Linked DNA regions of Homo sapiens: region 1 is linked to region 2. A link means that fine-mapping ties the variant in region 2 to the expression of a gene that starts in the linked region. Tissue or cell type: whole blood. Region 2 holds a variant in brackets; the other region holds the start of a gene. All regions are shown on one strand. Distances are from middle to middle. Region 1 holds the start of MYBPC3 (myosin binding protein C3). Region 2 overlaps SPI1 (Spi-1 proto-oncogene).

Region 1 (5,303 bases), 23 kb after region 2:
ACCTTCCAGTTCTCGTCCAAGCACAAGGAGGCGCTGGCGCACCGCTGGGGCATCCAGAAGGGCAACCGCAAGAAGATGACCTACCAGAAGATGGCGCGCGCGCTGCGCAACTACGGCAAGACGGGCGAGGTCAAGAAGGTGAAGAAGAAGCTCACCTACCAGTTCAGCGGCGAAGTGCTGGGCCGCGGGGGCCTGGCCGAGCGGCGCCACCCGCCCCACTGAGCCCGCAGCCCCCGCCGGGCCCCGCCAGGCCTCCCCGCTGGCCATAGCATTAAGCCCTCGCCCGGCCCGGACACAGGGAGGACGCTCCCGGGGCCCAGAGGCAGGACTGTGGCGGGCCGGGCCTCGCCTCACCCGCCCCCTCCCCCCACTCCAGGCCCCCTCCACATCCCGCTTCGCCTCCCTCCAGGACTCCACCCCGGCTCCCGGACGCCAGCTGGGCGTCAGACCCCACCGGGGCAACCTTGCAGAGGACGACCCGGGGTACTGCCTTGGGAGTCTCAAGTCCGTATGTAAATCAGATCTCCCCTCTCACCCCTCCCACCCATTAACCTCCTCCCAAAAAACAAGTAAAGTTATTCTCAATCCATCCTCTTGCAGCACAGAGTCTCTTTTAAAATTTGTTGTGTATCTCTTTTGGCCCCTGTGTGCTGCGACGTCTCTTTTTGTCATTTGTCCATCGGGTGTTTACCGAGGACTGTACCCAATGCTGGACCCTGGGAACATGAGGACCAATGACACAGAGCGCCTGAACAGGAGTTAGAGTTTGGTGGAAAGAACAAGTCCTCAATTGTGATTAGGAGAGCAGATCCTATTTAAAAGCTCTCTACTCCTGATAGTTGTTGTTTTTAAGCCTTGATGAGGTTTGAACTCATGATGATGATGATGATGATGATGATGACCATGACCAGCAACAACATTTGATATTCTGGTCAATTAGTATCTGCCAACCTTGAGATGTGGAGTCTAATATCACTCCATTTTATAGAATGGGAAACTGAGGCTTGTAGAGGTCAAATTATTTCCCCAAGGTCACAGCCGTTGAGTGGCCAAGTTGGATCACACTCCAGGTCTGTCCCGACACGTCAACATGGAGTGGGAGGCCTTGCTTATCTGGAAGAGGATACTCTTCAGCATTCCGAGGACAGGAATTAAGCCCCAAAGCTCCTGTGGGCCGCAAAGGGTTCTCACGAGCTGCACGCCCAGCAGGACTTTAGACCCAAGTGAATCCCTGGTGGGACCCCCAGGTTCTATTTGCTTTCTAGCTCCTAGCCACAGCAGGGGAGAAACAGACCAAGCTGAGCGGAGAAGCCTGTAAGTCCTGTGTTTTCCTCCAGACGGTAGCAAGTAGTGGCAGTAGACAGCCTGGGAGTGAGGGACTTCCCAACGCTGTCAAAGACCTTAGGGAACCCAGATTCTGGGGCCATTATCGTAGGGACAAATACCCGCCCCACACCTCCTCAACCCCAGAGGGCTCACTGCAGCCCAACCCTGCAGCTCCCTAGTCCTACTGCAGGGCCACAAGAGAAGGCAAAATGGTGTTGTGTCTTCATTCTTCTATTTTTATTTTTTTTTTTTTGAGACAGGGTCTTACTTTGTTGCCCAGGCTGGAGTGCAGTGGCACGAACATGGCTCACTGCAGCCCTGACCCCCCGGGCTCAAGTGATTCTCCTGCCTCAGCCTCCCGAGCATCTGGGACTACAGGTGTGCGTCACATGCCTGACTGATTTTTGTATTTTTTGTACAGATGGGGTTTCATCATGTTGCCCAGGCTGGTCTCGAACTCCTGAGCTCAAGTGATCTGCCCGCCTCAGCCTCCCAAAGTGCTGGGATTACAGGTGTGAGCCACTTCGCCCAGCCCATTTTTATTTTTTTATTATTATTCTTTGAGATATTAATAATAAAAAATAATAATAAATAATATTTTTATTATTATTATCACTCTGTCACCCAGGCTGCAGTGCAGTGGTGCGATTTTGGCTCACTGCAGCCCGGAACTCCTTGGACTCAAGCGATCCTCCCACCTCAGCCTCCTGGGTAGCTGATACTACAGGTCCACACCACCACACCTGGCTAATTTGTGTGTGTGTGTGTATTTATTTTATTTTTTATTTTTTTAGTAGAGATGGGGTTTTGCCATGTTGCCCAGGCTGGTCTCAAACTCCTGGCCTCAAATAATCTGCCTGCCTCGGCCTCCCAAAGTGCTGGGATTACAGATGAGCCACCACACCCGGCCTAACATTTTTAAAATTATAAACCCACTTCATACGTGTGACAATCCTGTGCAGTGGGTGCTGCTTTCACCCACCCCGCTTTACAGATGAGGAAACCAGGTGCTTTGAGATTAAAGAGATGGCAGTGCTAGGACTCAGAGACACCCTGGCCCCAGGGTCTGTGGACATGACCACTGCCTGAACTGCCTGCGAGGATGCTCCTGACCCGTTAGCCTTAGGGTTATGGGCCCAGCATGCTCCCACCGTACAATTTGCTGTAAGAGGGACACACACGGGGCTTGGAGTACCCCTGAGGCTTGCCAAAGGTTGGGGAGGCAGAATTGTGCTGCGGGGGGTGAGGGGGGAAGGGACAGGAGCCAGCCAGGGACAATGTGGCCCTACCTTCTCCCTGGAGAGACCTCAGCTCTCTGGAATTCATCTATATTTAGCAGGTGGCTGGACAGGAGGCAGATAAGCAGAGCCTGGGGAGGGGGGAGGTCCCCATATATAGTGGGAAGGACAGGACCCCACTCAGTCCCTCTTTGGGTGACCTGTGCCTGCTTCGTGCCTGGTGTGACGTCTCTCAGGATGCCTGAGCCGGGGAAGAAGCCAGGTAGCTTTAGGACTGGGGTTGGGTCTAAGTGTGGGAGCAGGGGGGTGTCTACAATTGGGGAGCAGGGCTAGGAGGGAGTTCTTGAGGGGGTTGACGAGGACGTGGCCTCTGAGCCCCAGGACAGGGGCAGCCAGTCCTCCAGGGTCCTTTTTTGATTCTCGGTTTCTTTTTCCCATCCCTCTGATGAGAGGTGAAGGTAAACCCAAGGTCAGGGACGCAGAGAGGGGACACAGCCAAGACAGGAAGCACCCGGGGTCAACCCATTCTGAGAATGCAAAGGGACCCCTTCCCTGTCCCATTGCCTTCACCTTCCACAGCAAGGTTCCCCGCGGACAGAGCCCACGTTTAGTATGGAGCTGAGCCAGGCTCACGGCATGCCTTCAGACCAGTCTCTACCCACTATGGGTCTCAGTCTCCCAACCTGGGGTGCCGGGGGTGGTGGTGGCATTGGGTTGGTTCCTCCTGGCTGTGACATTATCTGCTTCATGAGCCTGTACGGTGTGGCCCCCATGTTGAGGGTGACACAGCCCCTCTTCTCTGAGAGAGGACAGTCAGGAGCCCCTGAACCCAGGCCAAGGGCAGGGAAAATCACAGCCCAGGGACCTGGGCCTGGGCTGTGCCCTTATGAAGGTTGTCCAGGGCAGAGATCCAGGTCCCCATCCCCCAGCGCCCTCCCAGGCCAGCTTTATCTCAGTTGCTGATACCCAGCCTGAGGTCCTTGGAGGACAAATTTGGCCACATTCCAAGTAGGCAGACTTCCCCGCCCCCTGCCAAGGGCCCGAAATGGTTGGGGGAAAGGGAGCTGGGTTCATCACGGGTGTCTCCAAGCAGGGAAAGTGGACACATGCAGAAAAAGTCTTGTTGGGAGGTCAGGACCACAGCCCTGGCTCTCCCGACTGCTAGCTGTGTGATCTTGGAGGAGCCGCTTAGCTTCTCTGAGCCTCAGTGTCCTCCTCTGAGAAATGAACAGAATAACTGCAACTACCTCAGAGAACTGGTAGAGTATTACGTGAGGGGATGCATAGAAAGTGCTAGCACAGTATTTACTGAGAGGGGCTGCAGGGGCGGGGTGCACGCTCCAACCAGGGGCCGCTGTAGCCTCCACCTGGCCCTTCAGTCTCAGCTTTTAGCAAGAAGCCACGGTCAGTGGAAGTGGCCGCAGGCAGCCCTGCCGTGTTCGAGGCCGAGACAGAGCGGGCAGGAGTGAAGGTGCGCTGGCAGCGCGGAGGCAGTGACATCAGCGCCAGCAACAAGTACGGCCTGGCCACAGAGGGCACACGGCATACGCTGACAGTGCGGGAAGTGGGCCCTGCCGACCAGGGATCTTACGCAGTCATTGCTGGCTCCTCCAAGGTCAAGTTCGACCTCAAGGTCATAGAGGCAGGTAAGATCCTGATCAGCCTTCCCTGAGGTTTGGGCTGCTGGGGGAGGGGCAGCCCAGCGACTCTCCATCCATCCAGGGAACAGGAGGTGCTTTCACACTTTCTTGCCTTTGCTGTGGCTGTGCCCCCCGCCAGGAACGCCCTTTCCCCCTTTTCTGCACATGACCTCTCTGAGTACCCCCATGTGCCATCCTGGCTTGTTCCAGCCATGGGGTAGGTGGGAGAGATGAACAAGACACAACCCCACTCTCCCCCTGCAGACCTCCCTGGGGAGATGACCCTGCACAGACGGCCGGGAAGCCCCAGGAGCTGTGGATGAGGGGAGTGCAGCCCAGTCTGAGGGGCTGCTCTAAGGCTGGGGCAGAGCAGGGATGGACCTGGAGCTGTTCAGGGCAGATGCAGAGGACATGGGAACTGATGGCCTGGGACGGGGAGGAGAATGTGAGAGGCAGGCTGGCTCTCCAGCTCAGCATGAGCTGCCTCTGAGGGGCCCAGGCAGCGGGAGGACAGCCATGGCAGACTTTCCTCATCCACAGCGGGCTCATGGGTCCAATGCTCAGGAGAGAGAGGGTGGAGGGGTCTCTGGTTAGTGGCTGCACCACGACTCCCATCTGATCCCCTCCAGAGAAGGCAGAGCCCATGCTGGCCCCTGCCCCTGCCCCTGCTGAGGCCACTGGAGCCCCTGGAGAAGCCCCGGCCCCAGCCGCTGAGCTGGGAGAAAGTGCCCCAAGTCCCAAAGGTGAGAGGGGCTGGGCAGGGAGGGGCAGGATCCGTGGGTAGGGCGTGTCCAGGGCAGGTCTCAAAAGCCTTTGCTGGGCCAGGTGCGGTGGCTCAGGCCTATAATCCCCAGTACTTTGGGAGGCCGAGGTGGGCGGATCATGAGGTCAGGAGATTGAGACCATCCTGGCTAACATGATGAAACCCCATCTCTACTAAAAATACAAAAAAATTAGCCGGGCGTGGTGGCGGGCACCTGCGGTCCCAGCTAACTTGGGAGGCTGAGGCAGGAGAATGGTGTGAACCTGGGAGGCGGAGCTTGCAGTGAGCCGAGATTGTGCCTCTGCACTCCAGCCTGGGTGACAGAGCAAGACTCCA
Region 2 (5,364 bases):
CCACCAGCCCAACCCGTGGCCCTCGGACGCCTGCCTGCCTGCCCACGAACCCGCCAGCCCACCCACTGCCCTCCTGGCTTGCTATCAGTGGGAAGTCAGGGTTTCCTCCCTGGAACTCCTGGCCTGAGACCCAGCGAGGGGGCCATTGGCTTCCTCGGAGCATGCCCTGGCGGGCTGAGGCCAGGCCCACGGTGGGGCTGTGATCGGTGGGGCCTGAACAGTTATTTATAGACAGGGCTCGGGTGGCAGGCGGAGGCCGGGGCTCCTGGGGAGGGTGCTGGGCTGAGGATGGTGAAGGCGGTGGTAGAGAGGTAGAGGAGGGAGATGGGGGGACTGGCTTGGGGGAGGCCGGTCCCCTGGATGGGAAGGGGTTGAAGGCAGGAGGCAATGGGCAGAAGTCTTGGCCCATGGCCTTGGGGCTCCTGGAAACCAAAGCTGATGGAACTCTGGGTCCCCAACGCCCAGTCTGGGGCCTGGCACAGAGGACATGATTGTTGACCAAAGGGTCAGGGCCATGGGCCCACAGGGGTACCCACAGGAGACAGGGACTGGTGCTGGAAAGGAGCCAGGAGTGGAGCTGAGACAGTGCAGTTAGGGCTGGCCCCAGGGCTGGAGTTCAGGGAGAGGCGCGGCAGGGGACAGGGCTGGGACAAGGCCAGGACTGAGATTGGGGCTGGGTGGGACCTGGGGTGAGCATGTGATAAGTGAGAATGGGGGCTGAGGCTGGGACAAGGACAGGGACTGGGTCTTGGGGGTGAAGAAGTGGGAGCCCCAGGGGACCCCGAGAAGAGAAGGGCAGATCGCCACTGCTCCTCACTCTCAGTGACAGTTGCAGCCTTAGGCAGGTGTCAGACCAGGGTCCCTCGGAAAGGACCCTTCTCCCTTTTCCCACCCCATGACCTCTCAGGAGTGAGGAGGCTTGAGGGGAGCCGGGAAGGGCTTGGCAGGCTGCCCACCTGAATCCACTTTCCTGGTCTAGAGGCAGCTCCCTTCCCCCACTATGCCCTGGCTCAGAGCCACCCCAGGAGGCTGGGAGGCACCCCAGGCCTGACATCACACCAACCCGACCAGAGCCGGGCTGACATCCTGCAGCGAGGCTGTACTACCTGGAAACCCAGAGGGGCAGGCTCAGTGCTGGGCTCCTGGCCTCCTCACTTGGCCAGCCACAGGCAGGACCAGGCAGGACCAGCCAGCCTGCTGTGGCATCCACACCGACACCCCTTCCCACCTGGGAACACGAAGTGGGCGGCCCAGGCAGAGGGTGACGGAGGTTGTCTCAGAAAGAGCCAATTCTGCCTCAAGAAAGCCACAGGCCCACTGTCTCTGATCCCTGACCTCTCAATTCTGAACTCCAGGTGGAGCTAGATGGGTGGCAGAGCTCCTTGGGCCATCCCTAGGCACCCCCAGCCCTCTCTGCAAGCTCCAGGGTCACTCTGAGTGTCTCCTGGTAGGGTGGGCTCCCAAGGCAGCCCCGGTCCCCCAAGCCCAGCCCTAAGGGCCACAGTGACTGTTATGCAATCCTGGGCCACACGCTGCGGGGGCGGGGAGGCCTGATGACTGTTGGGAAGGCTCCTGGGTGTGCACGGCCCTGTGTCTGTGCCAGTAGGGGGAGGAGGACAGGGAGGAGGGAGGAAGGTGGGAGGAAAGAAGGAGGACAGGGAAGAGGGGGAAGAAAAGGAGGACAGAGGGGAGTGAGGAGGGGGAGGAGGAAGCAAAGGAGACGGGGAGGGGGATGCAGTGAGGAGGGAAGGAGGAGGATAGGGAGGACTCAGGAGGGAGAGTGAGGGGATCAAGGCCCTCCATGCGCTCGGCCCCTAAGTCTGCCTGGGTGACCCCTGCACCAACCGTCAGTGTGGAGGGTCATTGTGGTGCCACTCTTGCCCAGGCTGTGTGAGAGGCATAGGCTGTGAGAGTGGGGCTGGGCAGGCAAGTGTGTGCTGTGCGGTTGAGTGTGCAGGTGGAATGTGAGTGGCTCTGGGGGTGTGAGTGTGTGTGTTGATGGCTGGAACGTGGTGTCATGTGAGTGTCAATCAAGGAGACTCTGCGTGTGTGCATGAGCTGAGTGTACAATGTCTCTGTGAGGTGGGTGACCTCTGAGTGGGTATGAAGATGTGTGTGTGAGGGATAGTGTGCAGGCGCCTGCATGGGGGTGGGTAGGGGCTGTGAGAGTGAGTCCTCGTGTGGGATTATGAGTGTGAGGGTGACACAGGGATCGTGTGGACATGTGCATCAGTGTGACCAGGAGAGGTGTGTGGGATGAGGATGGGGGCACACAGGCGTGAGTGTGAGTGTGAGCGTGAGGTGGCTATGGGGAGTAGCCCAGCAGAGGGGGACCCTGGTCCTCTTCTGACCTCTCACCCCCAAGGTCCCTGTCACCCCTTTTCAGGCCTTCTGGGTCCCCTGCCCCACTCTCTGTCCCAGTTCCAGGCAGAGGGAGGGCTGTAGGTCCAACGCAGCCACTGAGCCAGGGAAGGTGATGGGGACCCAG[C/T]GTGCGGGGGTGCTGCAGGCCTGGCTGGGGTCTCCCACCATGGTGCAGGCCCTGACACCTCCTCTCTCAGCAGCCATCAGAAGACCTGGTGCCCTATGACACGGATCTATACCAACGCCAAACGCACGAGTATTACCCCTATCTCAGCAGTGATGGGGAGAGCCATAGCGGTGAGTACGGGGCCTGCCACGCCCCCATCCCCCAGCCCAGCCTGGGCTCCTGGGGTCTGGAGAGAGAAAAAGAATAAATGATTCCCAGGACTTCTTTGGAATTCTGAGAATCAGATCAAGTTTGCTCTCAAAGGCAGTGAACTGCAGCATCATCGCTGCACCCCCACACCTGAGCCTCCATTATGGAGCCTCTGCAGTGTGTCAAGGTGCGGGGTTCATTTCTTCCATGGTTATCTGCTGGTTCTGTCCTTGTGGTCTTCTTTATAAACAAGGAAACAGGCTTAGGGTGCTAGGAGACTTGCACAAGGTCACACGGCTGCTGGGTGGAACCCAGGTCTGTCCGCTCCAGGTCCTGTGCTTTTTTTTCTGCCCCTGCCTAACTACCCACCTCCTCCTCTCTGTTCTCGTCACTCTCTGTCCCAAACTCCCCGCCGGCACATCCGCACTTCCTGCCATGTGTGGTTGGCAGGGTTTCCTAACTGTGGCACTGCTGACATTTTGGGTGGGATGATTCCTGGGTGGGCTGTCCCGGGTACCGTAGGAAGCTTAGTGGCATCCTTGCTTCTACCTACCACATGCCAGGGCCATGGCCAATCATGACAACCAAAAATGTCTCCACCCATTGGCAGATCCCCCCGGGAGGCAAAATCACCCCTAATTGGGAACTGCTGGGCCGAAGGAAAACCTATGAGAACCTCTTGTTCAGCAGAGGCCGAGGCCCCCAGTTTGCTGAAGTGGGAGGAAGAGGCCTGGGCCAGGGTGTCCTTCTGTCTGTCCAGTCCTTCTGGGTCTGACTGTCTGCCCCATAGCCCAGCCTCCGTCCTGGAGCAAATTCAGGGGATGGGAGAGAGGCATTAGGTGCCTGGGACCTGAGCAGGGGGCTGCGGGAGGTTGCCCAAAGTGGATCTTGGCTTATTGATGTAGACATCCCTGACCCAAAGCGAGGTGGCCTAGTCAGTGGGTGAGTCGTCACTGGGGAATTCCTCAGGGCGTCTGGGACCCGGGCAGACCAGCGACTGGGGTGTCTGCACCTCAGAGGGCAGAGGCCCACAGCCTAGGAAGGTGTCACTCCTGAAGGCCACCCCTGCGGCCAGTCATGCCTGTAGCTCCATTCTGCAGATGCACCTGTGGCGGTCTAAACCTGATGGGCCCAGCTAGGGATCCACATGTGCCTGGTCCACATTTAGGGCCCCAGATTCATCCGGAACTCAGACTGGAAGCCATATCCCAGGGGTAGGCGGATATGCCTCCAGGCCACAGCTGGGAACGCACAGGCATCTTTTAGAATCTTTCAGGGCTAGAAAGCCTTTAAAATATCCTTTTTAATTCCTTCAAGCTTATTTGTAATTATGTAAAAAACACATCCTCTTGGTGGGAAACCCAGGCAATGTAGAGAGAAAGTCCCCCTCCCCCAACTCCATCCCCAGCTCTCCCTACCAGAGTGAAGAGCCCGGTCTGGGGGACCCAGAGACCACGCACCCACCTTCCCAAGCGGTTCCAGGACTCCAGGAGGTCCCGCTGGGCCCTGGGACAGGCGCCCCCTGGTGGCTCGGGTCACCACAGACAGTGCTGTCAGGCCTCCTCCAACAAGGACGCATTCTCCCTGGCCCAATCCCTCTTCAGTTCACTGGGCTTGGGTGCGTTTCCTTTGGGCCTTTTGCAGCCTCAGTTTTCCTTCCTGTAATATGAGGGCGCTGCCCACATAGCTGGAAACCAGTGAGCCTGGGGCTGGGCCTGATGGAGTGAGCACTTTAGAGAAAGCATGTGTTTTCGTGGCTCAGGGTCCAAGCAGGTTCCTTATATCTCAGGTGGGACTCTAGGAATGACTCCTGATTGGATGCCTGGGCACCCCATGTTGGTCATGAACCCCTAGTTCCTCCAGAGACTCCACCAGTGTTCCCAGGTGTCCTCGGCCTTGGCTCTGTCCCACTCTTAATCACTGCCAATCAGGGCATTTGGGCTGTCCTTTTCTTTTTTTTTTTTTTTTAGGACAGTCTTGCTCTGTTGCCCAGGCTAGAGCGCAGTGGCCCAATCTTGGCTCACTGCAACCTCCGCCTCCTGGGTCCAAGCGATTCTCTTGCCTCAACATCCCAAGTAGCTAGGATTACAATCGTGCACTACCATGCCTGGCTAATTTTTGTATTTTTAGTAGAGATGAGGTTTTACCATGTTGGCCAGGCTGCTCTCAAACTCCTGACCTCAAGTGATCCACTTGCCTCGGCCTCCCAAAGTGCTGGGATTACAGGTGTGAACCACCGCGCCCAGTCTGTCCCTTTTTTTTGATACGGAGTCTCGTACTGTCGCCCGGGCTGGTGTGCAGTGGCACAATCTTGGCTCACTGCAACCTCCGCCTCCCGGATTCAAGCGATTCTCCTGCCTCAGCCTCCCAAGTAGCTAGGATTACAGGCGCCTGCCACCACGCTCAGCTAATTTTTTGTATTTTTAGTAGAGACAGGGTTTCACTATGTTGGCCAGGCTGGTCTCGAACTCCTGACCTGGTGATCCGCCTGCCTCAGCCTCCCAAAGTGCTGGGATTACAGGCGTGAGCCACTGCGCCCGGCCGGGCTGTCCCTTTTTATACCCGCTGGAAGGTATCGTCTGAAGACTCAACCATAGAGACCCCCACACACTTCTGTCAATTCCTGCACGTCCTCTTTGTCCACATTTTTAGGTACTGAAGCTTAGTGAAAAAGCTTTGGCCCAGCC

The links. PIP is the estimated chance that this variant, and not a neighbour inherited with it, causes the effect.
Region 1: it holds the start of MYBPC3, and the variant in region 2 is fine-mapped to the expression of MYBPC3 in whole blood (INTERVAL, PIP 0.94).

What each region holds. Positions count from the first base shown.
Region 1 is chr11:47,350,146-47,355,448 of GRCh38, reverse strand. It overlaps MYBPC3 (myosin binding protein C3), which reads left to right and starts at 2,747. Exons shown (of 35, transcript NM_000256.3): 1 at 2,747-2,826; 2 at 3,944-4,210; 3 at 4,834-4,947. The coding sequence starts at 2,802. SPI1 (Spi-1 proto-oncogene) reads left to right here. Exons shown (of 5, transcript NM_003120.3): 5 at 1-589. The coding sequence ends at 222. RefSeq lists enhancers at 3,123-4,103, 4,104-5,085.
Region 2 is chr11:47,372,927-47,378,290 of GRCh38, reverse strand. It overlaps SPI1 (Spi-1 proto-oncogene), which reads left to right. Exons shown (of 5, transcript NM_003120.3): 2 at 2,562-2,658. Among named protein-coding and RNA genes, the nearest start is that of SPI1, 2.9 kb to the left of the region's middle. RefSeq lists enhancers at 1-97, 271-320, 991-1,190, 3,624-4,125. The variant C/T (reference allele first, on the strand shown) is at 2,489.